Regions from separate parts of the Homo sapiens genome. Here all the other regions are reported to be linked to region 2. Evidence: microRNA targets listed by miRTarBase, many of them from high-throughput screens and not tested one by one. Region 2 holds a microRNA gene; each other region holds the end of a gene's coding sequence.

Region 1 (8,027 bases), not on the chromosome of region 2:
AGGCCGATGTGGGTGGATTTCTTGAACCTGGGAGTTTGAGACCAGCCTGGGCAACAAGGCGAAACCCCACCTCTACAAAAAGTAGCTGGGCGTATTGGCCTGTGCCTGTGGTCCCAGCTACTGTGGAGGCTGAGGTGGGAGGATCACCTGAGCCCAGGAGACAGAGATTATGCCACTGCACTCTGTGCTGGATGACAGAGTGAGATCCTGTCTCTCAAGAAGAAAAAAAAAATTGTAGACCTTGGCTCAATTCTCTGTGTTGCATGTATGCTAATGCCCTTCATATCATGAGGCCGACATTCTGTGACCTTTATAGCCCAGTAATGATAGCCTCATCTTCCACGTGAAGCCAACTTTCTGTTCCTGCAAATATTTCCATGGAGTAATTCCTTGGTTTGTCAGACACGCTTGTGGGTGGGCTGTGCCTTCCCACCAGAGTTAACTTGAATTCATCAGCATTTTCTTGCTTTCAGGTTGTTGGTGTGGATCAGAAGATGAGGAGGCACCTTCTAAGAAGAGCATTTCTATACAAAGAGTGTCTCAGGTCAGCACTCCTGGGGCAGGTGTGTCTCCCAAGAAGGCCCACTCTTGTGAAATGTGTGGCGCGATCTTGGGAGACATTTTGCACTTGGCAGATCATCAGGGGACACATCACAAGCAGAAACTGCACAGGTGTGAGGCATGGGGGAATAAATTGTATGATAGTTCAAACCGTCCGCACCAGAATCAGTACCTTGGAGAGAAACCCTATAGAAGCAGTGTTGAGGAAGCATTGTTTGTGAAGAGGTGTAAGTTCCATGTGTCAGAGGAGTCATCTATCTTCATTCAGAGTGGAAAGGACTTTTTGCCCAGCTCAGGATTACTGCTGCAGGAGGCCACTCACACTGGGGAGAAGTCAAACAGCAAACCTGAGTGTGAGTCTCCCTTTCAGTGGGGAGATACTCATTACAGCTGTGGAGAATGCATGAAACATTCTAGCACCAAACACGTATTTGTTCAACAGCAGAGACTTCCCTCTAGAGAGGAATGTTATTGCTGGGAATGTGGGAAATCCTTTAGCAAATATGATAGCGTCAGTAATCATCAGAGAGTTCACACTGGGAAAAGACCTTATGAATGTGGAGAATGTGGGAAATCTTTTAGTCATAAGGGCAGCCTTGTTCAGCATCAGCGAGTTCACACTGGGAAAAGACCTTATGAATGTGGAGAATGTGGGAAATCTTTTAGTCATAAGGGCAGCCTTGTTCAGCATCAGCGAGTTCATACTGGAGAAAGACCTTATGAGTGTGGAGAATGTGGGAAATCTTTTAGTCAAAATGGTACTCTCATTAAACATCAACGAGTTCACACTGGAGAAAGACCTTATGAGTGTGAAGAATGTGGGAAATGTTTTACTCAGAAGGGCAATCTCATTCAACATCAACGAGGTCACACTAGTGAAAGACCTTATGAGTGTGAAGAATGTGGAAAATGTTTTAGTCAAAAGGGCACCCTAACTGAACATCATCGAGTTCACACTAGAGAACGACCTTATGAGTGTGGAGAATGTGGGAAATCTTTTAGTCGAAAGGGACACCTTAGGAACCATCAGCGAGGTCACACTGGAGAAAGACCTTACGAGTGTGGAGAATGTGGGAAATCTTTTAGTCGAAAGGGCAACCTCATTCAGCATCAGCGAAGCCACACTGGAGAAAGGCCTTATGAGTGTAGAGAGTGTAGGAAATTATTTAGGGGCAAGTCCCACCTCATTGAACACCAGAGAGTTCACACTGGAGAAAGGCCATATGAATGTAATGAATGTGGGAAATCATTTCAAGACAGCTCTGGGTTTCGTGTTCATCAGAGAGTTCACACTGGAGAAAAACCGTTTGAGTGTAGTGAATGTGGGAAGTCATTTCCTCAAAGCTGTTCCCTCCTTCGACATCGGAGAGTTCATACTGGAGAAAGGCCTTATGAATGTGGAGAATGTGGAAAGTCATTTCATCAGAGCTCTTCCCTCCTTCGACATCAGAAAACTCACACTGCAGAAAGACCTTATGAGTGCAGAGAATGTGGGAAATTCTTCTCCAGTCTCCTTGAACACAGGAGAGTTCACACTGGAGAAAGGCCTTATGAATGCAGGGAATGTGGAAAAACATTTACTCGAAGGTCTGCGCATTTTAAACATCAGAGACTTCATACTCGAGGAAAGCCTTACGAGTGCAGCGAATGTGGGAAATCCTTTGCTGAAACCTTCAGTCTTACTGAACACAGGAGAGTACACACTGGAGAAAGGCCTTATGAGTGCAGTGAATGTGGAAAATCATTTCATCGAAGCTCTTCTCTCCTTCGACATCAGAGAGTTCACACAGAAAGAAGTCCTTACAAGTGAAAAGAAATTTGGGAAATTCTTTAGCTAAACCTCTGTGCATCTTCTTGATCAGAGGGTTCTTACTGGATCAGGACCTTATGAGTGTGACAAACGTGGGATATTCTTTATGCAGAAGTCTTGTTTTATTACATACAGAAGAGCTCCCACTGCAGAAGGGCCTCTTGAGTGCGATGAATGTGAGAAAGCCTTCTGCCTTCTGTCATTGGATAACAGATTGTTCTCATAAGGAAAACACTGTACACGTACAGGAAATATTATTTCTTGTAAAACATAACACTGGAGGAGATGCCTTATGACGGAGCCATCTGCCTAAATTGACATACCTTCAGCATCTGCATAAACTCAATTATGTTGGAGCTGTGTGGCATTTTTCACCCTGCCGGGTTCCCTTGCCAGACATGATGTCGGTTATCTGGCAAAAGCCATTTTATGTCGGCCACGAGGCAGGTGTTCACTGTGCATCATTCATTCACCCCATGATGTTCTGGAAGTAAACCTTGGTTGTCTTTCGTTGGCCAGAGGAATTGGTGAGTAGTCTCAGCTGTCATTCCTTTCTCATTTCTTTCGGATGAGCGAGACCATGGATCTGTCTCAGTACTGGTCCAGAGGGGTCTTCTGTCAGCTTGAAAAGATGGACTACCTTTTTCAGGGACCTTATGGGTCTCATGTGATATTTTTTTTTTTTTTTTGAGACAGAGTCTCGCTCTGTCGCCCAGGCTGGAGTACAGTGGCGTGATCTCAGCTCACTGCAAGCTCCGCCTCCCGGGTTCACGCCATTCTCCTGCCTCAGCCTCCCGAGTAGCTGGGACTACAGGTGCCCACCACCATGCCCAGCTAATTTTTTTGTATTTTTAGTAGAAATGGGGTTTCTCCGTGTTAGCCAGGATGGTCTCGATCTCCTGACCTCATGATCTGCCCTCCTTGGCCTCCCAAAATGCTGGGATTACAGGCGTGAGCCACCGCACCCAGCGGGTCTCATGTGATTCTTTAGGCTCTTAAGTTCCAACCAAAGAACATTCTGCTTCCCATTGCTCTGATTTGTGCAATGAATAAGGCCTTATTGTTTAAGCTTCCTTCAGTCTTGAGAGTTGTATTTACTCTTTCGGGTGGTTTGGAAACAACTGGGTTCTGGTGTCATAAAGGGGCAGACAGCTTTTGTTGGGATCACTAGACTTTGTGTGCCTCAGAGGGGACAGTATGATGACAGAATATACTGTCTCTTCACTTGTGGCATAGTTTTCATGGCTGCCCAAGGCCTCCAAAGACTCCAGAACTTTGTGGTCCTTATTTGTTGACTAGATACTCCAATAATTTCTGGGTTTATAGATAAACCTGAGAAGGGAACAGTGTTTGTGACATCCTCTGATGCTTCTGAGATCGACACGAAAATTTCCTCTCTTTTACAAGGGATATTGCATTCTGCTCAGTACTGCTGAGGGAAATCTGTTCCCTAGGTCCTGGAATGCAGCCATGTGCTCTGATATCCAGAGTTTCGTAGTGTGGTGTCCCAGGTTATGAGATTATAACAGGAAGTCATAATTTATAGAATTTCTGCATTTATAGGCAGTGGAGGACACTGCAAGAACAGAGTTGGAATGCACGTCATCCACATTGATTCAGTTACTATGTATGTGGTGGACTGTCAGGTACAGAAATTCTCAGAACCTCCATAATTATGAATCTTGTGTAGCTGAGGCCATTGTCAAAGGAAATAATATAAAGGATTCGTGGATTCCTGTACCCTTTCTCGGCTGTTCACCTCAAGGCAATTCCTGCATTGGCAGGAGGAAGAGGATAGGGAGAAGGGAGATCTCTTAGTCCAGTGATGTGGTCTTTGTGACCAACCAGTGTTCCAATTTAATCAGGTGAAAATGGCCTTCCTGGCTTATCAGTATTTGCTGCCGCAGAGACTCATTGCTGCACTTAGGACATGAGGAGATTTTGTATAGTTGTCAAGCATGTTTGTCAAAAATAATAGAAAATCCATGTTTTTCTTTTTTTTTTTTTCTAAGACAAGGTGTTGCTCTGTGACCCAGGCTGGAGTACAGTGGCGAGATCATAGTTCACTGCAGCCTCGAACTCCTCAAGCAATCCTTTTCCCTCAGCCTCCCAAAGTGCTGGGATTACAGGCCTCAGCCATCATGTCCAGCCCACATTTTTCTTTTGAATCAATTCTTTAAAGCCATAATAAGGAATAAATGACATTCTGTAAACTATACATATTTAAACTGTACCATGTGGTAAGTTTAGACTTTCATAGAAACCCATGAAAGTGGCCAGGCACGGTGGCTCACGCCTGTAATCCCAGCACTTTGGGAGGCTGAGGCAGGCGGATCACGAGGTCAGGAGATCGAGACCATCCTGGCTAACATGGTGAAACCCCGTCTCTACTAAAAAAATACAAAAAATTAGCTGGGCGTGGTGGCAGGCGCCTGTAGTCCCAGCTACTCGGGAGGCTGAGGCAGGAGAATGGAGTGAACCCGGGAGGTGGAGCTTGCCGTGAGCCAAGATCGCACCACTGTACTCCAGCCTGGGTGACAGAGCAAGACTCGGTCTCAAAAAATATATATATATGTGTATATATGTGTGTGTGTGTGTGTGTGTGTGTGTATGTATATATATGTATATATGTATATATGTGTGTGTATATATGTATATACATGTATGTATATGTATGTATATATGTATATATATGTGTGTATATATGTATGTGTGTGTATATGTATATATATATATATTTTGCATCCCTTGGCATAAATGGGTTAGGTAAGTGTGTCACTAAATAGAAAAATACTCCCGTCTGCAATGAATTAGAAAGTTGCTTTTGATTCTTTCTTAATTTTTTTTGTTTTTGAGACAGAATGTCCGTCTGTCTGCCCAGGCTGGAGTGGCACGATCTCAGCTCACTGCAGCCTCCACCTCCAGGGTTCAAGCGATTCTCCTGCCTCAGCCTCCCGGGTAGGTGGGATTACAGGCATGCACCACCATGCCCGGTTAATTTTTGTATTTTTAGTGGAGATGGGGTTTTACCATGTTGTTCAGGCTGGTCTTGAAGTCCTGACCTTGTGATGATCTGCCCGCCTCGGCCTCCCAAAGTGCTGGGATTTCAGGCATGAGCCATAGTGCCTGGCCCTTTTTTTTTTTTTTTTTTTGAGACAGTGTCACTCTGTTGCCCAGGCTGGAGTACAGTGACACAATCACAATTCACTGCAGCCTTGACCTGCTGGACTCAAGTCATCCTCCCACCTCAGCCTCCCAAGTTGCTAGGGACAGGCATGTGCCACCACGCACAGCTAATTTTTAAAATTTTTCTGTAGAGATTAGGTCTCACTATGTTGCCCAGGCTGCTCTCAAAACTCCTGAGCTCAAGGGATCTTCCCACCTTGGCCTCTCAAAATGCTAAGATTACAGGATGAGCCACTGTGCCTGGCATGCTTTTGGTTTTTTTCTTGCAATTTAACAAAGTGGTGTCCCATATATTTAAGTATCAAATGTATAACTGAATTTTCTTTCTTTTCAGGGATCTCAAGGGCATTTCCCTTTGCCCACCTCACCTTTTCATATTTGGTAAACTGTATGCATTTGCCTCCAGCCCAAGATTATAAATATGAACTGATTATGATCTGCATGTTCTCTCTTTGGGTTCAAGCATTTCCTTACAGAAGAGCCACCGTGGAAGTCATGGGTAAATATGTGTTGAATTGGTAACTCCCTCTTGGAGAATTTCTTGTGAATTACACAGCAATAGGGGAACTCATTTAACTGGAGACATAATCTCAATTTGTAAAGTGTGGCCCATTTTCTAACATTTTTATTTTGCATACCCTCCCCTCTCTTCTCGATTGATGAAACTAACAAAGAGGTTAATAAAAGCCCATCTCGTCATGTACAGGGACTCATGCCTTTAATTCCAGTGTTTTGGGAGACTAAGGCAAGAACATCCTGGAGGCCAGGAGTTCGACACTGTATAACAGATATATCTGACAGCAGTAACTCAAGCACACCCTAAGAATGACCCTGTGGTCTAAGAAGAGTGTTGGTTCAGCGTTCCAAACGAAGAAATCCAGGAGTGGCCAACCTGGAGGTTTCTGAACCCCTGGCCTGTTCCTTGGAATGAGGCCCTTTGTTTTGAGCTAGGCGGAGGGTGATAAGTGAAAATACTATATAAACTGCATGCTTCTTTCAAATGATAGTGGTTTTTTTGTCCAGCCTGCCGCTCCTGGACTGCCCTGTATCTAAGTCCTCAATAAACCCTATGTCTCATTTTCTTTCTTTCTTTCTTTTTTGAGATGGAGTTTCGCTCCTGTTGCCCAGGCTGGAGTGCAGTGGCGTGATCTCGGCTCACTGCAACCTCCACCTCCCGGTTCAAGCGATTCTCCTGCCTCAGCCTCCCAAGTAGCAGGGATTACAGGCATGTGCCACTACACCCGGCTAATTTTGTATTTTTAGTAGAGACGGGGTTTCTGCGTTTTGATCACGGTGGTCTCGAACTCCCAACCTCAGGTGATCCGCCTGCCTTGGCCTCCCAAAGTGCTGGGATTACAGGCGTGAGCCACACGCCTAGCTCTATGTCTCATTTTCTAGCTCTGGCTCTCATTCAGTTCTTGGACATGGTGCCATCCTTGTTGAAGTCAACAGGGTAGGGATCAAGCATGATAGAGACCAGCCGGGCAACACAGCACAACCCTGTCTCTACCAAAACAGCTGGGCATGGTGGCAAATGCCTATAGTCCTAGCTGTGTGGGAGACTGAGGTGGGAGGATCATTTGAGCCCAGGGATTTGAGGTTACAGTGGGCCATGATTGCCCCATTGCACTCTATCCTAGACAGCAGAGTAAGACCCTGTCTCTCACCTGGCGAAATTAACAGAAGCTTTTCATATTACTTTGCTGAAAGCTCTTAAATTGGTTTTGCTTAACCTATAAACAACTCCTTTCAGAAAACAAGTATTCCGTTGTGAGAAAATTACCTATCATGCCATGAGGTTGGATGGAGGATTGTATGAACCAACTTAATTCAAAAGGGATCGACCAAGCATGGTGGCTAACGCCTGTAATCCCAGCATTTGGTAGGCCGAGGCAGGTGGATCGCCTGAGGTCAGGAGTTCGATACCAGCCTTGCCAACATGGTGAAACCTCGTCTCTTCTAAAAATCCAAAAATTTGCTGGGCGTGGTGGTGGATGTCTGTAATCCCATCTACTCTGGAGGCTGAGGCATCTTTTTATGTATTTATTTATTTTTTTGAGACATAGTCTCACTCTGTCACCCAGGCTGGAGTGCAGTGGTGCAACCTCTGCTCACTGCAACCTCTGACTCCTGGGTTCAAGTGATTCTCTTGCCTCAACCTCCCAAGTAGCTGGGATTACAGGTGTGCGCCACCATAACCATACCCAGCTAATTTTTGTATTTTTAGTAGAGACAGGGTTTCACCATGTTGGCCAGGCTGGTCTTGAACTCCTGACCTCAGGCGAGCCACCCGCCTCAGCCCCCCAAAGTGCTAGAATTACAGGCATGAGCCACCACACCCGGTAGGAGAATCGCTTGAACCCGGGAGGCGGAGGTTGCAGTGAGCTGAGATCGCACCACTGCACTCCAGCCTGGGTGACAGAGTGAGACTCTGCCTCAAAAAAAAAAAAAAGAAGAAGAAGAATCTCAT
Region 2 (8,027 bases):
TGTATAATAGAGTGGTAACTGAATTGATCTTCACCAAAGCCTGGCAATGCTTATTTTTAGGTGATGTGATGCTGGGTGGTTTTTTTAAAAAAAACTAACTTCTTTATATGTAGGTCAGTATGACTTGTATTTTTAATACTTAGTACATAATTTCTTTTAAAAGGAAAGACTAAAGTCACTATTTTAAGACAGCATGATTATTTCATCTATTTCACAAATATTTCCCAGGCAGTGAGCACAGGAAAAGTACCATGTCAGTTGCTATGGACGCCTGGTGTCCCAAGAGGATGGCAGTCTCATGATGTGAACACATGGTGCTTTTTTACATTTTCTTCCATGAGGTAAAAACGTAATCATGCTGCGGTATACCAATCCATGTTCATAACAATGGTCTTAAATGGCCAAGAAAAACAAACAACGGTTTTTTTTTTTTTGGCAAATGAGTGTGCAAAGCATTTATCACCTATATCTCCTCTGTCAGCTCCATGACGTGCAAGCATCATTTCAAATGGCTGCAAACTGCTGCTCAGAGACACCCATACCTCGGGGTCCCCCAGCTATGAAGTGGCAAAGCCAGACCAAAGCCCGTATTTTCTTACTCCAAATATTATGTTCTTTTCTTATACCCTGTTTTAGTATGTGGGAAAGTTTATGGTATGTTTTACAATGTTTTCATAAAAACAAAAAAATATTGCTAAGAGAAAAGATGACATTTCAGTTGTCTGAAGAACATATTTATGCTGAAGACCTCATCCCTGGTGTAAATGGAGCATTATTATTATTGCCAATATAGTGCTTCCTAGGCATCTCTTCATTAATTTCACACAGTCCTATGAGGAAGGTGTCTGACTGGTCCCATATTACAGACAAATAAGCTAAGGGTTGGAGAACTCAAGGTCAGGGAGAGGACAGGCCAGAGCTTGGATTCAAACCCAGGCAATCTGACTCTGGTACACACATCTCAATCACTGTATTTTCTTACCCCCAGCCAAGAAAGGAGGAATGCATTATTCAAGTCACACCTGTGACTGGAGGTTGCAGACTAAAACCTCAATGAATTATCTCATTCCTCTTACTCTATGGCTTTTTTCAACCGATTCCGTTGCCTGGGTTTGGAAACACATTCCCAAAGCTGGCCCTTAGTCTGCTTTTGGTTACAGTTCAGAATCTTTTGATTTTCTGTCCTAGGACCAGTGTTTCCTACCCCCAATAATTTGTCATAGTCCTCCTCATCACTTGAATGGCAATGACTGAAAGTGGACCAAACCCGAGGCCTCTGCATGGTTTTGCACTCTGGAGAAATGCGTGCTGCATCAACAGATGTCCTTACTGCAGCGGGTTCCCAATGCCTCCCAGAATGAGAGAGCCTTATTTGGAATGTACTGATTTGCAGTGCTTCCTGGCCTCTAGGCACAGATTAAATGCAATTACACAATTTATTACTGTATAAACTATTATTTACCTGGAGCGTTCCAAACAATAAACTCTAAATTTAATTCCCCAAAGGTCAAAAACAATTTTTCTTATCCTTGCAAAATGTTTAATCACCGTAGAGAACGGAACTCGTACAGATGGGGAGTAAAGTGAACAGGGAAAGTAACTGGTCAATCTGAAATGTGAATTGATTAAATTTCTGGTTTTTAAAAAGCCCATAAGAAGTCTGCAATAGGGAAACATCATATTGGACAAAAATAATTGTGTTTGTTTTATTTATTATAATATAATTACTTATTTTACTATTAAGTTTAGATCATGTATTTTAACATGGGTCTATGTAACAGATGAGGAAACTGAGGCCCAATTAGGTGAAATGGCACGAAGGGAGCCTCAATCACACTGAGAAGCTCCACATCCAGTTGCCTTATTGTTAGTTAGAGGAAGCTCTGTGCCTCCTGGAATGAGTGAGGGATTAAGGAGAAGAGTATCCACTTTGGGAGCCCGAGGCAGGCGGATCACAAGGGCAGGAGATCAAGACCATCCTGGCTAACATGGTGAAACCCCGTCTCTACTAAAAATACAAAAAAAAAGGAGAAGAGTATCAAAGAGAGGTCTTTTTCTGAAAGGAAATAATGAATTCATGTCTCCAACTGGAGAAACCTTTGAGCAGGAACGGCAACAATGGAACATCTGTGCTGTTCATTCTCTTATCTCCTGCCTATGACAGCCACTGCTAAAACACTATTCTTTCAATCTCTGTGCAAACTCAGAATCATTCTTAACCAGTTCTCCAGTTATGTTATATGTATAGTACTATACATTATATATATAATACATGGTATATATTATATTTATACACCATATATTGATATATAGTATCAATATATAATATATAACATATAATATTTACATGATATATATAACATAATCTATGATATATTACATTTAGCATTACATATATTATAGATAATATATAATAATACACATATAATGTATACTATATTATGTATATAATATGTATAGTATTATATATAATACATATGTATATGTACATATACATGTATATACATATGTGTGTATATATACATATACATATGTATCATATATGATAAATGTATACATACTATATATGTATATACTACATATATGATATATACATTTATATTATGTTATACATAAATATATAATATATAATAATATATACATATGTAATATATTACATATATATATAAAATACAGTCAGAGACAGCAGGTGAAATTTTCTTGCAACTGGGTCAGAGATTGAGTAACTATTATTTACCTGGAGTGTTCCAAACAAACTCTAAATTTCATTTTCCAAAGGTCAAAAACAAATTTCCTTATTCTTGCTTCTTGGTCAACCCCTACACACAGTGGTAAACATTTGTTCCAAATTCTTCCCTCCTGGTCCTTGGAAGGCTGCTTCAGCCTTTGGCATTTGTTTCTGGATAGCCACGACTGGCTTTGTACTCCTCCTGTGCCCTCCTGGCTTTCTGCACATGTTATATCTCTGACTTTCAGCTTTGAGGAAGTAGAATGCTCCTTCCCTTTGGAGAGTCACTGCTCTCCTTACAGACCCGCACACTCAGAGGACAAACCTGCTAAGCCATGGAAATACTCTCTCATTCTCTGCAGTACTAGAGAACAATAAAAGGGGGTGAACAATGGGCATGGGCAACAGCATAGATAAATCTGAAAACCCCCAGGCTGAGTGAAAGAAGCAGATAACAAAAGAGCACATACTGTTTAATTCCCTTTCAACAAAGTTCTGAAAAATGCAAACTACTTTACATAATGAGGATAAACCAGATCATTGTTTTCCTGGGGAAAAGGGAAGGGCAGGGGGAGAGTCCAAAAATGGGAAGGAGAGGAGGAAGGTGGGAGGAACCTTTTGGATTGATGATTTTCCCCGTAATCTTGATTGTGGTGATGGTTTCACAGTGGTATACAATTGTTATTGTCTGATACTTTCGAATTTTGCTTTTAAGCTTTTAAAGGCAAGATAGAGTGACAATTTATCTATTTTTCATTACGTAGCAAAACTATTCTGAACATTTTACCCAATACTCCGTGAAGTATGAGGTTTTCCACTTAGGTTACTGGAAAAAAGAATTATTCCTGGTGCCAGTGTCGTGGCAGGGAATGTTTTCTCTAATCCTTGTTGGTGCTTCCCCCCACCCTCATCTCATAAAGTCTCTGCACGCATGTGCTGATTAGTGCACAGCTAAAGACTCAAGGAGGACTCTGTAGAATCTCTGGTGCCTCTGTTAGGTAGCTCTCTTTGTGGTAGTGCTCTGTTCTTCAAACTTCAGCCATTTTGGTTTCCTGCATTCTCAGATCCATCATCTCAACTCAGTGGGACCACCCAGCTCCATGGGGATTCCTCTCCCTGTGCTGTGGCCTGGAAACTGTCTGTGCGGTCAGCTGGGGCAGTCAGAGGGCTCACCTCATTCATTTACCTTCTCTTACAGATCACTTTTCTGCACTGGACAGTGATCTGTAAGAGAAAGTAAATGAAAGAGGTGAGACTTAGGTTCAATGTCTCAAAAATGTTTCATGTGTTTTAAATGCTGGCTTTTTAGTTGTTTCAAGGGGAAGGTAAATCTAGTCTCTATTACTGTATCTTGACCAGAAACACACATATGCTCTCCTTTTGGATTTATGAAATGGCTTGGGCCATTTGATGAAACATCTTCTGTGGATTCTTCTCTCAGAGTTCAACTGGAACTCTGAGATATTTTCTCATTGGGCTGATAGCACATCTTCTCCTTTCTTGTTTGCATATGTGGTCAGAGAAGGCAGTTTGGACATTGCACCAAACATCTCCCTTGTCTTATGGCTGATAGTATAAGGCAGTATTCTCAAACTGAAGGTCTGTAGACTAAATCTAACCCAAAAATGATGTGTGTGTGTGTGTGTGTGTGTATGTATTTTTGCCTGCACAGTGATTAAAAAAGACCAAATTAGTTTTAAACATTAAAACACTGGACTTTTCCCATGGATATCTGAATTCCTGTCTTCTCTTGAAAAGTCAGAAGACCTGATAAATTTGGCTCATGTTCCCACAGAGTACCATTTATCAAAATACACTAGTGGCTTCCCCCTTTTGAAAGGCTGTGCACGCTCCACTTTCACATAGGCTTCCTCAGGCACCCACCTCTCATTTCTATTACTCGACTGGCCCCAGAGGCATGAGGATCTGTGGCCCTTATTGTAGAGATCAAGAGCACAGACTTTGGAGTTCAATTCTCTTCTCTGGCATTTTGATGATCTGACCAGAGTTCTTTCTCTTTCTGCAACTATTGCCCATGCTTCTATAAATGCTCCCCTTCTCCCTTCCTCCTTCCCTCTTCCTCCTTCCCCCTTCCCCCTTCTCCCTTCCTCCTTCCCCCCTTCCCCTTTCCCCCTTCTCCCTTCCTCCTTCCCCCTTCCCCCTTCCCTCCTCTCCTCCTTCTTCTTCTTCTTCCTCTTCCTCTTCCTCTTCTTCCTCTTCCTCTTCTTCTTTGCCCCTTATGTCTATTCTCTACCCTCTTGTGGCCAACTGTCTTGTGGCCAACTGGTCTTTTATGTATTTCTTTTTTTTTTAATATAAAAAGATTCATTGAATCAAGCTATGACAGTTTTTTAAAGCTATTTTAAACTGTTTTAACAACTATATTGAGCTATAACTTACATGCAAGAAACTACACATAGTTAAAGTGTATAATTTTAAATGTTTGGACATAATATACATCTGCAATCACGATAGTGGATATAGGTCAGGCACAGTGGCTTACATCTGTAATCCTGGCACTTTGGGAGGCCAAGGCAGGCAGATAGCTTGAGCTCTGGATTTTTAAATTTTTTTTTCACATCCAATCTCCCTTTAAAAAGAATTTCTTGAGAATATGGTACATATACACCATGGAATACTATGCAGCTATAAAAAAGAGCAAAATCATATCCTTTACAGCCACATGGGTGCAGCTGGAGGCCATTCTCCTAAGCAAGTTAATGGAGAAACAGAAAACAAAATACCATATATTCTCACTTATAAGTGGGAGTAAAACATTGCGTGCTCATGGACATAGAGATGGCAACAGTAGGCACTGGGGACTACTAGAGGTGAGAGGGTGGGGAACAAGGATTGAAAAACTAACTATTGAGTATGATGCCCAGTACCTGGGTGATGGGATTATTCATACCCCAAACCTCAGCATGCAATATACCCAGATAACAAACCTGTAAACATGCCCCCTGAGTCTAAAATAAAAGTTGGAAAAAAAAAGAAACAAATAAAAAGATATTTATATAGACTCAGTAAACCACTATTATTTCTTGTGTGCAAGTGCTTTGTACCAAGAGAACTCAGAAGCCAGAAGCCACCTTAGGTGACAGTTTATGGGTCAAGTTCCTATTCTTGGGGCACTGGGTTTTGTTCAGTGTTGTGGATAATATGATCAGCTTTCTTCAGAAGAGACTGGGCTTGCCAGGTAGTGACAATGTAATAGACTACTGCATCACATTCACTTAGTTTCCTACTTAGCCCAGATTGTGCTCAAGCAATAAGTTTTCAATAACGATGATAACAAAAGTCATAATAATTGCCCCAGTAATAGCTACTCTTTGTCAAGCACTTATGCTTTTCCAGGCATCACATTAAACACTTTACACAAATTAGCTTATTTTATCCCCGTAATAATGCTAATGATTATTGACTTTATCTCTCCCCCCCAATTTCAAGTATGGGAAAACACTCTCAGAGAGGTGAACTGACTTTTCCTAGCTCATGTCACAGTCAGGAATAAAATTCAACCCCAGAAAAGTCTGATTCTGAATTTATTTTGCAATGGAAGAGAGTAATCCAATGACCATCAGTAGGGGCATGTTACGTGGAACAAATCTGTGAGGTGGGACTTATTTTCATGTTGTAGAACCTCTGATGGAAACTAGGGAGGGCTTTGGAACCAAAAGTGGAAAGGGCAGGAAGGGCGTTCAGTGGAATCAAAGTGGCTCCCAGGAAAGGCAGCTGTTTTACATCATGGAAACAGTAGAGCTTCCGGTAGCACCAGCAGACGCGGCTCCCAGCCTACCACTCACATTCTCCACAACCTTCTGAGAGTTCCTTAACCTCCATGAACCTCAGCTTCCTTTCCTTAAAATAGAGAGAGCAATATCCTGCTGCAGTGTTAATGATGCTCATGAAAGGTAGTCTGTGTGAAAAAAAGTTTAGCAGATAGGGTGTTTTGTAACAGTCAAAATATAGTTTATTTTGAAGGGCTTTTTGGAGGATGAAAGGGGCTAAGACATGTCAATTGCCTGGAACATAGTAGACACTCAATAAGTGAAAACCATTCAGGGTCCAAATCCCATCTCTGCAGTTCCAAAATCCAAAATCCAAAATAGAAAGTTGGATGTCAAAATGAATTTTGGGGGCAAAATCTCACCTGGGGTGATGTGAGGCTACCTGTCTTACATAAGTTAAATTTGATGATGAGATTCTGTGAAACATACAGTGTATATATATCATGACATACAATGTATATATACCGTGTCATGTCTCCAAGGTCTGAGAATGTCTGAATTCTAAAACTTCTCTGGCCTCAAAGATTTTGGATAAGGGATTGTGGACTGGTATTACTATTATTATTATTATTATTATCATCCCATTTCCAGTTCCCTGTTGTTTTATGAGTCCTGGTAGAAATAGCACCTGCCTTGTTTAAGCTTATTTTCCCCAACCCCTAACATAAGTGCCAAGGACAAGGATGGTAATTTATAAATAAATGTGTATTGATGAAATAAATACAAGATTGATGAGAATCTTGGTGATGAAGAAAATAAAAAAATAAAAATGGATTCCCAGGGAAAGAGAGAGGAAGAGTATGCTTTATTTTTCCCTTTCTTTTCCTAGGCCTTTTAAAGGACCATGGGCTGTTTGAGGGGCCAACATCATTAACTGGTGAGTGGGGAGGAGGGGCTGGAAGCAGCCCCACAATCCTGAAAAGGCTGCTCAAGGAGCAGAGCTGGCAGCAGCTCTTGTGTGCAGCGATTCCATCAGGGAACACAATTGCCTTTTTTGGAGGGCTGGCTCAGACACAGCTGGTGTTACAAGCTTTGCAATCCTAATGCAAGGAAAAGCTGGGAAAATCCCACAAAGTGAAATTGTATCTGCTTGTGGTCAAGTTGGGACTCCAAATTTGGACAGTGGAATTTGGTGGGAAAATGTGAAATGCATCAGGGGTTATATAGTGAACCTAAGATTTATCGCTTCGGCAAGTGGCTATTTCCAGAAGAACTAGCAAGTCATGGTAATAATTCTGTGACAGAGGAGAAGGGGGAGGGACCCACAGCTTACTGCTGATGTGATCAACCTGTGAAAATCCTTGAGCAAATGGAAAAGTCAAAGTTGTTCCATGATGCCCGTCAGATCACTGCACACCAGTATGTATATGAGGATTTAAAAAACATGAAGTCAGTTGATTAGAACATAAAATACTAGAGGTAGTCAGAGCAGTTGGACTAGTTGCCAAAATTATATGTTTCCAAGCCTCTGTTTTAAAGCTATTTAAATGTATCCCAGAGAGAGAGTT
Region 3 (8,027 bases), not on the chromosome of region 2:
TTTTCTAAGGAGTAACAACATTAAGTGCTTTTCAGAGATAACATTTGTAGTATAAAATTATATATAACTTTTTAATATAATTTGCAGTTATGGATTAAATCTAAAACACAAAAGTAATCTTTCTTTACACTTAAGGATGTAAGGAAACACTGAGGGACTTAACAAAAGCCACTCTCTAACAAGACAGCACAGCCAGATTTTATGAGTACGAGTTACCCATTATAATGCTCAGCTTAAGGTTAAATTAAGTGTAGTTTCAAAGGCTTTCCTCAACACTATATATTGCTGTGAGGTGGTGGGAGGCGGGCAGGAATCTGCCAGGAATCTAGTAATTGTAGGTTCTGAAAATCACTCAAGAAAGAAAGCAGACGTTTATGGTGCACTAACTGCCAGGCCCCGCATCATCCACTCTGACCCTCTGGGTAAAGTATTATCGTCTCTTCAGTTAAGCCCATTACCTATATCCTTAGCCCCTTCTGTTGTCAGGTTACCTTCATTTGCAACCGAGAGGTGGTGGAATGGAGCTACAGATGATGGTCCCTTGCCCTGATGCCGATCCGCGTTCACCCCAGCGAGTGTCTCGTATCTTCGTGCCGTTTCCCTTCAATTCCATCACTAACCATGGCACTATACATCTCCATGCCCTCAAAAAATCTCAAACATCTACCTACTTTTTTCCACTGGAAAAGATTTTTGTGGAATCAGCATCTGGAAGCTAATATGTAATTCTTTTTTCTTTTCTTTTCTTTTTTTTTTCTGTTTTGTTTTGAGACGGAGTCTCGCTCTATTACCCAGGCTGGAGTGCAGTGGCGCGATCTCGGCTCACTGCAAGCTCCGCCTCCCGGGTTCACGCCATTCTCCTGCCTCAGCCTCCCGAGTAGCTGGGACTACAGGCGCCCGCCACCGCGCCCGGCTAATTTTTTATATTTTTAGTAGAGACGGGCTTTCACTGTATTAGCCAGGATGGTCTCGATTTCCTGACCTCGTGATCCGCCCGCGTCGGCCTCCCAAAGTGCTGAGATTACAGGCGTGAGCCACGCTAATACGTAATTCTAAAGTGGAACTAGCCATGATGGAGATATATATATATATATAATATATATAATTTTTTTTTTCCCCTGAGACGGGGTCTAACTCTGTCGCCCATGCTGGAGTGCAGTGGTGCGGTTCAGTGCAACCTCTGCCTCCCAAGTTCCAGTGATTCTCCTGCCTCAGCCTCCGGAGTAGCTGGGATTACAGGCACCCGCCACCAGGCCCGGCTAATTTTTTTGTATTTTTAGTAGAGACAGGGTTTCACCATGTTGGCCAGGCTGGTTTCCAACTCCTGAGCCCAAGTGATCCACTTGCCTTGGCCTCCCAAAGTGCTAGGATTACAGGCATGAGCCACTGTGCCCTGCCGATTTTTTTTTTCTTAATAGCAGCTTCTTTTAAAATTGAATTTGTATCCAATCCTGAGAAAATGTCCAATACTACAAAGGTAAATGAGCTTTTACTCCTAAATATTTGTTCTTATGCATTTTGTTCCTTTTCAGTTTTGTATTTGTAGATATTATTTTAAAAATATCCACTCTTATTTGCTTCCAAAAACGTTGATGGCTACTGGGACTGGTTGCCTGGTACAGGGGCTTCGGTATACTGTACTGTTGGCATGAGCAGTATTATCCCAAATAGAGTAATTTTTTTTTTCTGACAGTCTCGCTCTGTCGCCCAAGCTGGAGTGCAATGGCGCTATCTCGGCTCACCGCAACCTCCGCCTCCTGGGTTCACGCCATTCTCCTGCCTCAGCCTCCCAAGGAGCTGGGACGGCAGGCGCCCACCAGCACGCCCGGCTAATTTCTTTTTGTATTTTTAGTAGAGACGGGGGTTTCACCGTGTTAGCCAGGATGGTCTCAATCTCCTAACCTCGTGATCCGCCCGCCTCGGCCTCCCAAAGTGCTGGGATTACAGGCGTGAGCCACTGCGCCCAGCCCTTAATAATTATAAAAAAAAGTGTAATGGCCAAATTATGGTTTTGCCACACGATGAACTATTAAGCAAGTATTAAAACATTTTACAGTTAAGGAAAAACCCAAACATATGAAGAAAATTCACCCTAAAATAATTGCTTTTAGCTTCTGGGATTAAATGGTTTTTTTGTTTGTTTTTTGAGGCAGAGTCTTGCTCTTTCGCCCAGGCTGGAGTGCAGTGGCAGATCTTGGGTCGCTGCAACCTCTGCCTCCTGGGTTCAAGTGATTCTCCAGTTTCAGCCTCCCAAGTAGCTGATACTACAGGCGCCCACCACAGACTAATTTTTGTATTTTAGTAGAGACGGGGTTTTGCCTTGTCGGCTCGGCTGGTCTCAAACTCCTGACCTCAAGCTCAAGTGATCTGCCCACCTTGGCCTCCCAAAATGCTGGGATTTCAGGCATGAGGCACCATGCAGGGCCCCTAAATGGTTTCTTACTTTATACTCTTTGAGGTTTTAAAAAATGTAATCCTAGCTTTCACGATCTTGAAATAAAAACAATTGTTACCAATTGATGAGCTGCTTCCCATCATCTTTTTAAACCTAATGTTTAGAAATTCTCAATTCTAATTCTCAAAATTACTTGGTGTTTCAACCAAGTATTTCTATTGCAAACTCATGGAACAAATGGAGATTGTGATAAGCAGATACATCTTTAGGTCTATCTGTGTGGGTTAGCAGAGATTAGTTTTTAGTTTGACAATTCTTGTTTTAATGCGAAAAAGTCTAAATGTCTGACAAATTATATATTCTTGAAATAAAATACTACACAGTGCTTACAAACGCTGTGTAAGTGTATTCACTGAAATGGGAGAAAGGTCACAGTATGATAAAGACTACAAAATAGGATGTACAAGCATAGAATAGGATCTGAGAAAAATGCATCTTTAAATAGCTACTTAAATAGCTGTTTAAGTGAATTATGGGTGATTTTAGCTTGCCTGCAGTTCCTGAGTTTTTTTTCCAATGTGTATTAATTTCTCCCCTATGATGACACACATATTTCTCATCCCTGCATCTGTCCATCTCCCCAACCTCATCCCTAACCCCACAAGACTTTTATACACATTTCCCAAACTGCTACAACAGAACAGAACTTCCCCCTGGGGCCTCCATGATTACCATGAATCCAAGTACTAAGTACCAAGATCTGTGCCTTAAATCCTGATTAACCCACATTTGACGCACGTCAAGCTCAATCTCTGAGAAGTCAAGAGAATGCAGGGTTCTTGTTCACTAGTTTTTCTAATCAACCAATTGCTGTCTGATAAGAAGTTCTCTTCCTTATACTTTTAGATGTCTGATATTGGTACAGCCAGTCAACCATTCTCATCACTCAAAAGTACTGTCGACTCTGTTTAAACGGCAAGATATTAACTTTCTGTACTGATCCCAGAAAACATGCCTCAAAGTGGCTTTTGAGACAAGATCTTTGTACCCCAGGCTGCAGTGCCATGACACAATCACAGCTCACTGCAGCCTTGAAATCCTGGGCTTGTGATCCTCCTTCTTCAGCCTCCTGAGTAGCTGGGACTACAGATATGCACCACTATGCTTGGCTAATTTTTAAAATTTTTTGTAGAGACTGGGTCTCGCTGTTGCTCAGGCTGATTCTGAACTCAGGCTCAAGCAATCCTCCCACCTTGGCCTCCCACAGCACTGGTGTGACTGCCACATCCAGCCCCCAAGGTGGCTTAGTTAAAAAAAATTTTTTTTTTCCTTTGACAGTTGAAGTCGGTTTATCATAAAAATATGTGTCCTGGCCAAGGCGTGGTGGCTCACGCCGGTAATCCCAGCACTTTGGGAGGCCGAGGCGGGCGGATCATGAGGTCAGGAGTTCGAGACCAGCCTGGCCAACATGGTGAAACCCAGTGTCTAATAAAAATACAAAAAAATTAGCCGGGTGTGGTGGCTCACGCCTGTAATCTTAGCTATTCAGGAGGCTGAGGCAAGAGAATTGCTTGAACCTAGGCGGCAAAGGTTGCAGTTAGCTGAGATCGCACCACTGCACTCCAGCCTGGGCGACAGAGTGAGACTCCGTCTCAGAAACAACAACAAAAGGTGTTCCTTCCTGTGGGTAGGATTTAAAAGAAAAAAAAAAAAGGAAAATGGGCAGCCTTAGGGCTAGCAAACACCCAAGTAATAGGTCAGATTTAACAAGGCAAGGCTCGCTCCAAAAAAACTGTAGAAAAGCCTAACGGAGTAGTTCAAGGCAGGATCTTAAAGTACTTCTGTTATGCTTTTCTACAATGTTTTTGGTATTCTATAAGCCAAAACCCTTTACCTGTTTTAATTTGTAAGAAAAACTAGTGATTTCTTTAAATATATCATTACAACGAGTATTCAACGATTAAGAAAATCTGTGATTTGAAAACATCTATTACCACCGTCCGGGGTGGGAAGGTTGGGGATGACAACTAACTAAACACTGGCAGATGGTTCTATGGTTAAAAGGCTTATCAAAAACTCATCTATTCTACCTATACTTCAGAGTTAAAGGCAAATCTGTTCATCACCGTTTCAGGCCTCCATCGTGTAATGACCAACAGCGCTCAGGTGGCTCCTAGTCCTTCCCCATCCCCCAAGGGTTATCAAAGCTTCTTTGCCGTCAGTTCATGACACATCACTATCCTCTGCATTTGCTTTTACTGTATCCTCACTATTCCCTATAAACTCTGCTCTGGCAGTCCGTGCAGAGATCTATGATCCCATAGGGCTTGTTTTTAAAGGATTCTTGCCTACTGATCAGCCCACAGGCAAAACAACACACCAAGTGTACAGAGGTTTAAATTCTGTTCCAAGGATCCCTATTTAGTGATAACCTCAACAAGGTCTGTTCTCCGGCCGTTTTCACTGTTGCCAAGTCAAGAGTTGCCCCACACCACCTCTGAAGACTATACTTAAGAGGGCAGAATGACAACAGAATGTATATGAAAGCAAATCTGGAAAATACATACCATACTAGATTTAGTTGTAGCTTCTTTTTTTGGGACAAGTTTCACTTGTCACCCAGGCTGGAATGCAATGGCGTGAACTCAGCTTACAGCAACCTCTACCACCTGGGTTCAAGCAATTCTTCTGCCTCAGCCTCCTGAGTAGCTGGGATTACAGGTGCCCACCACCAAACCCAGCTAACTGTTTTATTTTTAGTAGAGATGCGGTTTCACCATCTTGGTCTCAAACACCTGACCTCAGGTGACCTACCCACCTCGGCCTCCCTAAGTGCTGGCATTACAGGTGTGAGCCACCACACCTGGCCTATCTGTACTTTTTTTAACCTCATACGAAGAGTTAAGAATTACGTATTTGCTTTGATTCAAAGGATATTGGATTGTTTTTCCCTTAAACCAATATAGTCAAGCAACTTCAAAGGACATAGATACTCAAGCAGTTATGTCTCAGGTATCAACCAACAATGAACCACATAATGGTCCCATATTATATACTGTACCTTCTCTTTAGATACACAAGTACTTACCATTCTATTACAACTCCCTATAGTATTTACATAATAACATGCTGTACAGGTCTATTGCCTAGGAGCAATAGGTTAAACCATACAGCTTACATAGGTAATAGGCTATGCCACTGAGGTTTGTGTAAGCACTCTCTATGATGTTCACGCAAGAAAACTGCCTAACAATGTGTTTCTTAGACTGTATCCAGTCAGTGGTGACCCATGACTGTATTAAACAAAAATTCAAACATTTCACTTAAAAAAAACAACTTTGGAAGATCAAATATGGAATTTTTTTTTTTGAGACAGGGTCTCACTCTGTTGCCCAGGCTGGAGTGCAGTAGTGCGATCTGGGTGCGCTGCAACCTCCACCTCCCAGGTTCAAGCGATTCTCCTGGCTCAGCCTCCCGAGTAGCTGGGATTACAGGCACCTGCCACCACACCTGGCTAATTTTTTTTTGCATTTTTAGTAGGGACAGGGTTTCACCATGTTGGCCAGGCTCAAATGTGGAAATTCTGTAAATAAAATTTAAACCAGAATTTAATCCATGTGCTTCAAAATATTTTCATAACTGAGATTTTATTGGTTGAGGATCAGTACAGACATTTCAATTTGTACACAAATCTTAACATACGTAACGAAATTCTAAAAAGCCATGTATTGTAATTCTTTTTTAAAGTTATTCCAGTGACTTTCCAGCTTAAAATTTGGAAGCAAATTTTCCTTAAGAGGCTATCAAGTACCAGTATCTTCACGTTGGTCAGCTGTTACATACGGCCCACCAGTTCACAACTCAACAGCACGTACACTACATGTTCAAATCTGTAATCTTTCACAGCACAGTAACAAAGTTATTAGGAAAACAGGACTACCACAAAGATGTTACAGAGTGCACACAATTCTGGCAGAGAGAGCCATGATCAAAGAGTGGTTTTCTTTAGGAAACAATTCTACTAAAAAACAACATGGTAATAGAAGTAATTTAAAATGTTCAAGACATTAAATGCAGGACTGACTCCATATTGCCATTTAATATGCTTTGTATTATAGGATATAAAAACTAACCCCCCATCTGTGGAATGTTAAGCTGACACCCGAGACAGTCAGAGCCTCCCATAATTCAATATCCCACACTATTTTCTGGTTGTACCAAAAAATAAACAACCAGCAAATGATTTCACCTCTTAAAAAAAAGCATTTACACTTAAAAAATGGGATGAGGTGGGATTCCCTCCTTCTTAAAAATGTTTCTAGAGCTACTAAAAAACTTGCATTTACAAAATAGTTGATAAAAATATTCCTCTGGATTGTACAAGAAGGGAGACAGGGACCACTGATAAGACATGGTATATGGTTATTAATCAGACTTGGCTTCTTTCTCTCCTGCTTCATCAGAGGCTGGACTCTGCAAAAGAAAGGAAATTGAGATCTTTAGCATTTAACACGTTGTCGTTTTATTTATATGCAACTATCAGGTCTTTAAAAAAGTCAATAACCTTTGTTATTTGTAAAGTCACCTACCTACTCTTGTTAAAAAACTTTTGTTAACCACCCCCTCACCCCAAATCAATACTTGCAGCCCTTCCATGGTCATGTGCATGCATCTACAGAGCAGGAAAAAATGTTGAGTTGCATCACATGTACACTCCAAGCTGAGGTCACTCTGTCTTCTTGTTTCAGCTCTAATGCCGTAAACAACTGTTTTTCCGGTCTACTTAGTGCCACATATTTTACACCTTTGTGCTTTTTACTGATGATTTTGTTGTTTAAAATGGCCCCCACGCATCTTGTTCAAGTGCTATCTAATGTTGCTCAATTCAAGGCTGTGATGTGCCACACAGAGAACGTATGTGTTGGAGGGCTTTGTTCAGGTACAAATTACAGTGCTACTGGGTAGTGAGTTCGATGTGAATTTAACATACATTAAGGCATGTCTAAACAGAAATACACATGTAACAAAGTCACGTATTTTCAGTTGATGAAAATGTTGTGATCAGAGGTTTGTAGGAACCCAATCCTGTACTTCCCCTATGTGAAAACGGTTTCATACTTGTGGCAGCCTTATATTAATAGAACACAGCTATAAACAAGGGAAACCAACTGTAATTTGATAACATGTACTAGAAGGTCAAGTTCTTCCTTTAAAATCAAAACTAGATTAGCAATGTGATCTTATTATCACACAGTATTTGATGTATGGTTAGAATTAAGTAGTACAGGCCAGGAGCGGTGGCTCACACCTGTAATACCAGCACTTTGTGAGGCCAAGGCGGACAGATCACCTGAGGTCAGGAGTTTGAAACCAGCCTGGCTAACACGGCGAAACCCCGTTTCTACTAAAAATACAAAAAATTAGTTGGGTGTGGGGATGCACGCCTGTAATCCCAGCCGCTCAGGAGGCTGAGGCAGGATAATCGCTTGAACCCGGGAGGTGGAGGATGCAGTGAGCCAAGATCCCACCACTGCACTCCAGCTTGGGCAACAAGAGCGAAATTCCGTCTCAAAAAAAAAAAAAAAAAAAGGAATTAAGAAGTACAAGAAGTACAAGTTAAAAAAATAAACTG
Region 4 (8,027 bases), not on the chromosome of region 2:
CTTCAGCCTCCCGAGTAGCTGGGACTACAGGTGTGCGCCACCATACCTGGCCTACGTGGCTAATTAGATAAGAATTGTGCGTGTCTGCACAGTGAATGTTCTCGGTGAATGGGTGGAAAGGCCAAGCTCCAGGGTCTGCTGCTGGTGGTTTTGTGTTTTAGGGTTTTGAATTCTGGCTTTTCCTTCTGCAGGCATCAGCAGGACTCAGACCTCTCAGCAGCGTGCTCTGACGCTGACCTCCACAGACACAAAAAAAAGAAGAAGAAAAAGAAGAGACATTCAAGAAAATCAGAGGACTTTGTTAAAGATTCAGAACTGCACTTACCCAGGGTCACCAGCTTGGAGACTGTCGCCCAGTTCCGGAGAGCCCAGGGTGGCTTTCCTCTCTCTGGTGGCCCGCCTCTGGAAGGCGTCGGACCTTTCCGTGAGAAAACGAAACACTTACGGATGGAAAGCAGGGATGACAGGTGTCGTCTCTTTGAGTATGGCCAGGGTAAGAGGAGATACTTGGAATTAGGAAGATAGAAACTATTTCTTAATACATTTTCTTTGCAAAGGTGATTAACATGTAGAAAGAAAACCTCAGGTGGCATCAAAGGGCACAGTTACTCAGAGCACCCCTGCCCTGCCTGGTCTGGCCTCAGTGCTCATCCCTGCAGTGTGGTTCCGTTGCACAGTTAAGCCCTTAGCGTTTATTGAAGGCCTAAGTGACACAGGACTGAGGGCAGCACTACCTGTGTCACCAAAGCCCTGGAACGTACAGCTCTAGGCATCTGACTTTGCCTTGCAAAGGACCAGAACTCTTGGTTTGGTTTGGTTTTATTTTATTTTATTTTATTTATTTTATTTTTTGAGACGGAGTCTTGCTCTATTGCCCAGGCTGGAGTGCAGTGGCGGCGATCTCAGCTCACTGCAACCTCTGCCTCCCAGGTTCATGCTGTTCTCCTGCCTCAGCCTCCTGAGTAGCCGGGACTACAGGCGCCCGCCACCACGCCCGGCTAAATTTTGTGTTTTTAGTAGAGACGGTGTTTCACCGTGTTAGCCAGGATGGTCTCGAGAACTCTTGGTTTTAAAGCATTTTTGATAGAAATACTTTTGCAGCGTATACGTTACTCTCCCGAATCCTTAAACCTGTAGCATTCTGAGTGCACCCTGATGCTCGGTACTGATTTGCTCGCTTGGTTCCTTAGAAGCGTGGGCACCAGCCTCTGCTTGAGTGACACTGCAGAGGCCTCCATGTGGCAGAGCGCTGGCTGCCCCTGCCAGGTGTCCTGGATTCTCTTCTGCCCTGTGGGGCTGTGTCTCCGTCCTGTGGCCACACGCTGTGCTCTTACTGCACTTGAGGCAGCCCCCCACTTCCTCTCCCGTTGGTGTCCGGTGACCGCTCACCCTCGAGAGGAGCTGTGAGCCTGTTAGAAGCGGATGTCACTCGAGTCAGTGGACCTAGAGCGGAGGCTGGCAAACTGCAGCCCTGGGGCCAACTTCGGCCAGTCACCAGACTTTGTATGAACTTGGAGTTAAGAATGGTTTTAACCTTTTTAAGTGGTTGGAAATAATCCCAAAGAACAATGCGTTTCACATGAAAATGATGTGAAATTCAGACCTCAGTGTCTGTGGCTTGATTGGGGCGCAGCCAGGTGCGTTCCCACGCTGTCTGGCGGCTTCGCTGTCACTGCCTGGCAGAGGTGAGTGGCTGCGGCAGGGCAGGGACCGTGTGGCTCGCAAAGCGGAAAATGTTTATTATTGCCCCTTGACAGAAAGGGTTTGTCACCCCTGCCTGGACGCCCATTGTTTGTGTTCACGTGTGAAGCGCATCCCCTCCTCCCAGGGGCTTTTGACGAATCTTCAGGGCTGCCCTGAGGCCTTTTGCTTCTCGGCTGAGTTGTGGGTTAGGTGGAGCTGTGTGTTCTGGGGAAGGCCTGTCCCTCCCAGCAGCCCAGAGCCAGCATGCATTGTTGATTGAGGGGTAAACGGTCCTTAGAGTGTGTGAGAGAGAGCTGGGGGTTGCGGGGTGAGCCCCATGGGGGACATTTGCCCATGGAGTGCTGGGGAAACAGCCGGAGATGAGGACAGGCACCAGCACTGCCGGTGAGGACGGGTTGCCTGCGGGCCTTGTAGACGTTCTGGACATTTCAGAATTGGTTTTGCGTTCCCATTTCAGCGAATCGGGGAAGGAGATTCGTGAGGGCTGCTTGGTACCCGAGGATCCGAGGATGCAGTGGATGGGCTCATTCTGAGTGTGGTGCAGGCTCCCAGGATCATGGGCTTCCAGCTGGGGCTACTGGGAGACAGTGATGGCCCCCGAGGCAGCTGGTCCAGCGGGAGGGAGGTTGAACGTGATCTTGTTTGCCTCGTGTCTCGGGTGCTGTGGTCAGGCGTTGTCTGTGTGGTGGCCCTGTGTTTCCGTCCCCGTCCCACTGCACCGATGACAGGGTTTGCAGCTGGCGCTTCTGCTGCGAGCAGACTGAGGAGCCTTTCTTGTCCTTCTGAGAAGGCCGCTGCCCGGCCCCGCCTCACCCAGCGTCCTGTGGTCCTGCGGGTCCCCCTCTACCCTGGACTTCGGCCCCTTGTCTTTCTCTTTCAAACTCCTCCTCTGGCTCTGTTCCGCCCAGTTCAGTTCTTGGGCCTGATATCTGTTCTAACATCAGGCTGCGTGTGGGTTGGATGGAGCCCTCAGTCATCACGTAAACCCTTTGACATCAGTAAAACCCTGGGAGCAGCCGCTGAGCGCTGGGACATCCCTGCTCACCTCACTGGGGAGTGGCCTCAGGCGCTCACAGGGAACCGCAGTGACTCTGACCATAGCCACTTAACGCACACACACAGCAGAGGCCCTGGCGATTTTGCAACCATCATTAAAATCTCTTTCCTGACCTTTGCTTTCTAGGTGATTGAAAACTCAGCCTCAAAACAAAAAATTCACTAGTTATGGTAAGCTGTTTTCCTGTCTGTTTCCTCATTGTTTGTGGTGGCGCTGAGGGGACGCAGGCAGAGGAGTTTTAATTCTGCGGCTCTGCCTGGGGGCTGGGCTCATAGGAGTTGGCAGAGCCATGGAGAGGCCCCGGCAGGTTCCCAGCCAGCCCAGACCCAGGCCACGCGCTTGGGGACAGACCTAGACCCTCCACCTCATCACGTTTGCATTACTGGCTGGGGAAGACCCGCATCCTTCACGCAGGCAGAGTCGCCCTGTTCCCTTGTGCCTCACTTGGGAAAAGCCAACCCGGCTCACAGCGGCAGAGCCCACGGGCCTTTGATAAACATCTGGGAAGGGAGAGGCCCGGTCCCCAGCACAGGCACCTCACTCAGGAGAGCGGAGCCTTGCTCCCTCGTCCGTCCCGTCCCCTGTGCTGCTGTCTGCGCCCCGAGGTGGCACTGAGCTGGAGCCAGCACCCCCCCAGCAGCCACCGTACAAAACCATAGGAAGGTGGCCCAGGGCCGGGCGGCAGATCAGGACCTCGGAGCTGTGGGGCTTTGTTGGATCACTTCACACAGCGGTCCTGGGAGAGTCACTGGTTTTATACCTGACCCTTGTGGAGCTAGAGGGGACAGTGAACCATTTTTCCCTTGAAAGGAAACTTTGTCCAAATGTGTCTGTCACATGTAGTCAGCAAGAGGAATTTAAAATGAATTGCCAAGTGAAGAGTCTGTGGATTAATTGGCCGTTAATTAACAGGCTTTATCAATGTGTCCTCAAGGGAGAGGCCCAACCCTAATTAAGGAGCTAAACTTCCTGAGTGAGGGGCTGTGAGGATGGAGGTGGAGGAGGCATCTGGGGCGGGTGGTGGCCGGGCCCAGCAGATGGCGCCTCCCTGGCTGAGCTGCCCGCACCGCCAGTTCCCTCATTTCCACTCAGGAAGGCAGAGAAGGCAGAGTGATCTCCTCAAGGAAGAGCTTCCCCAGCCTTCGGGAGCAGCTGGCAGGGCGTCCGGGAATAAGCCCTACACGCCGCCGCCTGCCTCCAACTCACTAACCCTGCGCCTCTTGTCTTTCAGATTCAACGCGTTCAACAGAAGCCATCCCCAGCCCAGCTTAAATTATAAAGATAGACAATAACTCTGTTCCAATCTGCGTGGTGCTTCTTTAGTAAATACTGTACAGATTTTACCATGGAGAACTTTTTTTTTAGTTTTTACCTTTTCTTAATTACCCTTATTCCGAATGGACGAACACTTTCTACCACTGCTGACCATTGTAAAATACCGTGTATATAAATCCCATTGAAATAATGCCCTGGAATAGAACATCTCAAATGCTGCTTAATTACAGACTCAGGTCGATTACTTGTATTTCATGTAATGTTCCTCCAAGTTAGACATCTGGTGCAAGACCAACCGGGAGACCATGGAATTGTCAAAAGTACAAACTGACAGTGTGTATATTTAATTTAAAGACTTATTTAAAAACTCACAAGCTCTCACCTAGACTTTGGAGAGCAGTCTGTTTTCTGTAATGTCTGATACTAGAAACTAATTTGCTTATTTTAGTTGTATTCAAGATTTGAAGATGTATTTTATAGACAAGTTCTGTTTTTGAACTTTGTGGAACTGTTCCAATCAATCAATTTCCCAGTTATGATGAGTATTTACATTATGAATGTATAACCCAGACATGATTTGTAAAGCCGACAGTATGTTTCTATTACACAACACTTTTTGATACAGCGTCTCTTGTCTTCACTGATACTGGAGTCTCCGTTGTCTGCTTGGTCCCTTCGAGTTTCTAGTTACAGACACAATCATACTGTGATTTTATTTTTAATATGGATATGCTATCAAACTGTGATACACTTATAATTCACTGGTCCTGCATCAGGAGATGGAGTGGGGAAAACTGTATTTAATACAGTTTGTATCTGAATAATCTGTATGGTTTATACAGTTTGTGTTGTTCAGAGATGTTTAAAGTTTGATCTTTGTTTTTCTAAAGATTAAAAAAGCACTTGCCCCACTGTAAATATACAGCATGTAAAATTTCTATAGTATATAAATGGCAGCAAATCACACACTTGGCGTCTTTTTACTGTTGTTTTCCCCATTTGCTTCCAGACTCCTTCCTGTCATCATCTGAATTCACTTTCTTAAAACCTTCAAGTAAGTGCTCCTGCCGAAGTCGGCACCTTCGGCCAGGCCATCCCACCTCGGACGGGCAAAGGAAAATTGGAGGGGTGTTTGCTGGACCCAACAATATCTGTTTTAAAGAACCAAGTCTTAGGCTTGTTTTAACAATACATGTGATTTTTATTTAGTGAACACAGTATCTGCAAGAGCTCTGACAGCCATCCACCCTCCAATCTTACTTCACTTTACAACCAAGTATCAATAGAGGCTGTTCCTTCATGCGAGCTGTGGGAGTATATACATCATTGAATAACAGACACTCCAGAAATCAACAGATGTACATTATTTACATATTACTATATTTACCGCAAATAGAAATATTTTCTAAGAAAAAAAGTCAATTTGTGGTTTCTGGTCTACCACAGACCTAACTTCTCAGCAAAGCATATCTATGTAGATATCTGCGTTTGTAACTTTAAAAATAGGCATTGCTTTCTATGAAGCACTAAGTGCTGCTCCATCTATAAATAGCTCCTATTTTCAGTTTGGTACCACATTAAACTGCCCCAAAATGTTCTGTGACCCCAAAGACACAAAGTTGCTGCTTATCTGGGTCCAGGGTCAGTACAATTAAACTCAAATATGAACCAGGGCGGCCAGCAAGACAGGCTGGAAGGGCTGTGGCAGTCGCCGCCGCCTCCCCGCGGGGCTCCCCTCACTGCCTCCTGGCCTCTGTCTCTGGAAAAAAGTATCTTTGGCCAGAGTTGGGACTAACAATTCAAGCCCTGCGCTCAGACGTCAGGGTGGGGAGGAGGAGGACTGTGATTGTGACGCGGCCTGCCCAGGGTGAGGGACAAAAAACAGATGTGTCCTGTTTCAGGGCCGTCCTGGTAGCGGCTGGCCCTGCGCAGTCACTGACCCAGAGTTTTCTGGACCAGGCCTGCCTCAAGGATCAGCAGGCATGATGGTCGCACAGCCTTCATGCTAATACTGTCCTAACACAGCCTGGAGCTAGGCGATTTCCTTTGACCACAAAGTACCTGGAGTCTAACTCAGCACCACAGCCTCTGCATGGCTCCCAGGTGCCCACCACCTGGCGAAGCTCATTCACAGATGACAGCAAAGGGGGAGCTTGATCATCTGGCGACTCCTTCCTGCTGCTTCTCCCAACACCCAAAACAGAAAGCTCTGCATCCCCAGGTCACACCTGGGTTGGTCAGAAGAAGGAAACAGCTTGTCCGAGCACAACATGCTGACAGAGCTGGCTGTGGCCAGTCTTGGGTGCCGGGCCAGCCTGAGGGGTGGGCACCGCCGGAGCCGGCCGTCAGTGTGTGGTCTGGGTGGGGGTCCAGGCAGCATTTATTTTCATGGAAGACTGGAGGCCAGAGTTGCATATCTACCAGTCAGGCATTTCAAGAACGCTGACTTGCCTTTCTCAGAACTAAAACTTCCGATTTGAGGTATCAGTAACAAAGCCTAAGAACGTGGGAATGAAAGTCTGATGCAGGACAGGGGTTTCTGGCCTCGGACCCCTCTGCAGTCTAGTGTGACTTAAAGCTACATCAAGGTCAGCCGCAGGGAGGCGAAGGGCCCGCAGCCGCTCGGCCTCCACTTCAAGGCAACTCAAAGAACAGTCTCCGCTGCTGAGAAGGAAACCTAGGTGCACAAAGTCTGAGGTTTTGTCTCTGGACTGGGCATTTTGCACAGGAGTACAGATGCCCTCCAGAGGGTGCAGATTCAAGGTGTGTGTGCCTATGCAGGTGGGGCAGGAAGAGGAAGTCCATAGAGGAAAAGCCAGCCACCAACCCAACAGCCCACTGTGTAACAGGGTCCTGGGGACGCAAATCTCCCGACAGAGAACAGCGTCTGCCACCGGCCCGGGTCGGCCCAAGCACACAATGCCCCCGGTCCAGCCCTGAGCCCTCTCTGTAGGTGGGGCCCAGATCCAGCCTTCCTTGAGCGGAGCACTGGGCACCTCCTATCCTTACATCCACAGCAACCTGACAACCTCCCAGGCGGGCGTGGAGTTTGACCAGTTCCACCACCGGCGTCTATCTGGGTTCTCTACGTGCCGGGCCTCTGCACCCCAGGGCCTGTTCTTCCCTCCTCGTAGGGAGGGCACCTCTCTCAGGACACGGCGCACTACATGGGGTGAGACTGTTTTTAGTTAATTCTGTGTCTATTCATTAAGAAATCTGGTCAAATTAGAAAGTCTGTAAAATAAGCGTTCATTTTGCCACAGGTTTTAAATAGCGATGAATATGGTCAAAAGCCGGTCTAACCTGCTGACCTGTATGAAACGCTGCCATGTGTGTGCATCTAAACAAAACATCAGCAGTTTCACGTGGCTCAGCGTATGGACCATCTGTGTCCAGGGAAAAGGCTGTTTCCTAGGAGTTAGCAGTTACAGCCTAAACACCCCCAAACCATTAACTGTTATAATTTTAATGATTTGCTTAAAGTATTTGTGGGGCCAAAAAGCCTGGTTGAAGGGAGGCCTCATGGGAGTCACCCTGGAGCCCCCAAGTGCCATGGCCGTCCCTCCCCCAGCCCGTCCCGAGCCCACCTGCTGCCCCCCGGGGCTTGTCTGACAGCCTGACAGGGCAGGGCTGCACGCTGCCCCCGTGCCGGTGCCCCCAGCCCTCCCCTTGGGTGCTGTGTAGATGGATATTTTTTCAGTGCACAGTATATACTTGTGTCCAGGAGTTAACTTTATAGCTGCCATTCTAAAAATACTACTGTTAGAAAGTATCTTTTGTTATAATTTCAGAATATAAAAAGGCATATAAAAGCTATAATCCTATATATCTGAGAAAAATTCTGAATAAAAAACTGGTAGCTTTTCCTTTCCTGTTTTGCTATAAAACAGTGGCTTTCTAGAACGGTTAATACTGCCCCGAGTGAATGCGTTTGGCATGGTACGAATGAGGCTCCCGTCTGTGGAATCCGTCCCGTGTCTGCTGTGGAGAC

Evidence for each region. The annotated mature microRNA hsa-miR-3686 reads AUCUGUAAGAGAAAGUAAAUGA and lies in region 2 at 3,951-3,972, shown strand. An mRNA with a match to its seed (bases 2 to 7 or 8) in the 3' UTR can be bound and repressed. Matches are read on the target gene's strand: a 7mer-m8 pairs with bases 2 to 8, a 7mer-A1 pairs with bases 2 to 7 and ends in A, and an 8mer does both.
Region 1: miRTarBase lists ZNF418 as a target of hsa-miR-3686. Seed matches in the 3' UTR shown: 7mer-A1 at 2,502-2,508 and 8mer at 6,028-6,035.
Region 3: the mRNA of HMGN1 is a reported target of hsa-miR-3686. Seed matches in the 3' UTR shown: 7mer-m8 at 6,285-6,291.
Region 4: the mRNA of USP42 is a reported target of hsa-miR-3686. Seed matches in the 3' UTR shown: 7mer-m8 at 4,261-4,267 and 7mer-m8 at 4,724-4,730.

Annotation. Positions count from the first base shown.
Region 1 is chr19:57,920,494-57,928,520 of GRCh38, reverse strand. ZNF418 (zinc finger protein 418) reads left to right here. Exons shown (of 6, transcript NM_133460.3): 4 at 474-2,898; 5 at 5,232-5,329; 6 at 5,892-6,639. The coding sequence ends at 2,371. Among named protein-coding and RNA genes, the nearest start is that of ZNF417, 7.9 kb to the right of the region's middle.
Region 2 is chr8:129,480,012-129,488,038 of GRCh38, reverse strand. MIR3686 (microRNA 3686) reads left to right here and starts at 3,897; the gene lies at 3,897-3,982. It overlaps CCDC26 (CCDC26 long non-coding RNA), which reads left to right. Exons shown (of 4, transcript NR_130917.1): 2 at 7,349-7,396.
Region 3 is chr21:39,336,292-39,344,318 of GRCh38, forward strand. It overlaps HMGN1 (high mobility group nucleosome binding domain 1), which reads right to left. Exons shown (of 6, transcript NM_004965.7): 6 at 6,024-6,868. The coding sequence ends at 6,821. Among named protein-coding and RNA genes, the nearest start is that of HMGN1, 8.8 kb to the right of the region's middle.
Region 4 is chr7:6,156,563-6,164,589 of GRCh38, forward strand. USP42 (ubiquitin specific peptidase 42) reads left to right here. Exons shown (of 18, transcript NM_032172.3): 16 at 192-493; 17 at 2,888-2,931; 18 at 3,993-5,002. The coding sequence ends at 2,895. It overlaps CYTH3 (cytohesin 3), which reads right to left. Exons shown (of 13, transcript NM_004227.4): 13 at 5,217-8,027. Among named protein-coding and RNA genes, the nearest start is that of USP42, 56 kb to the left of the region's middle.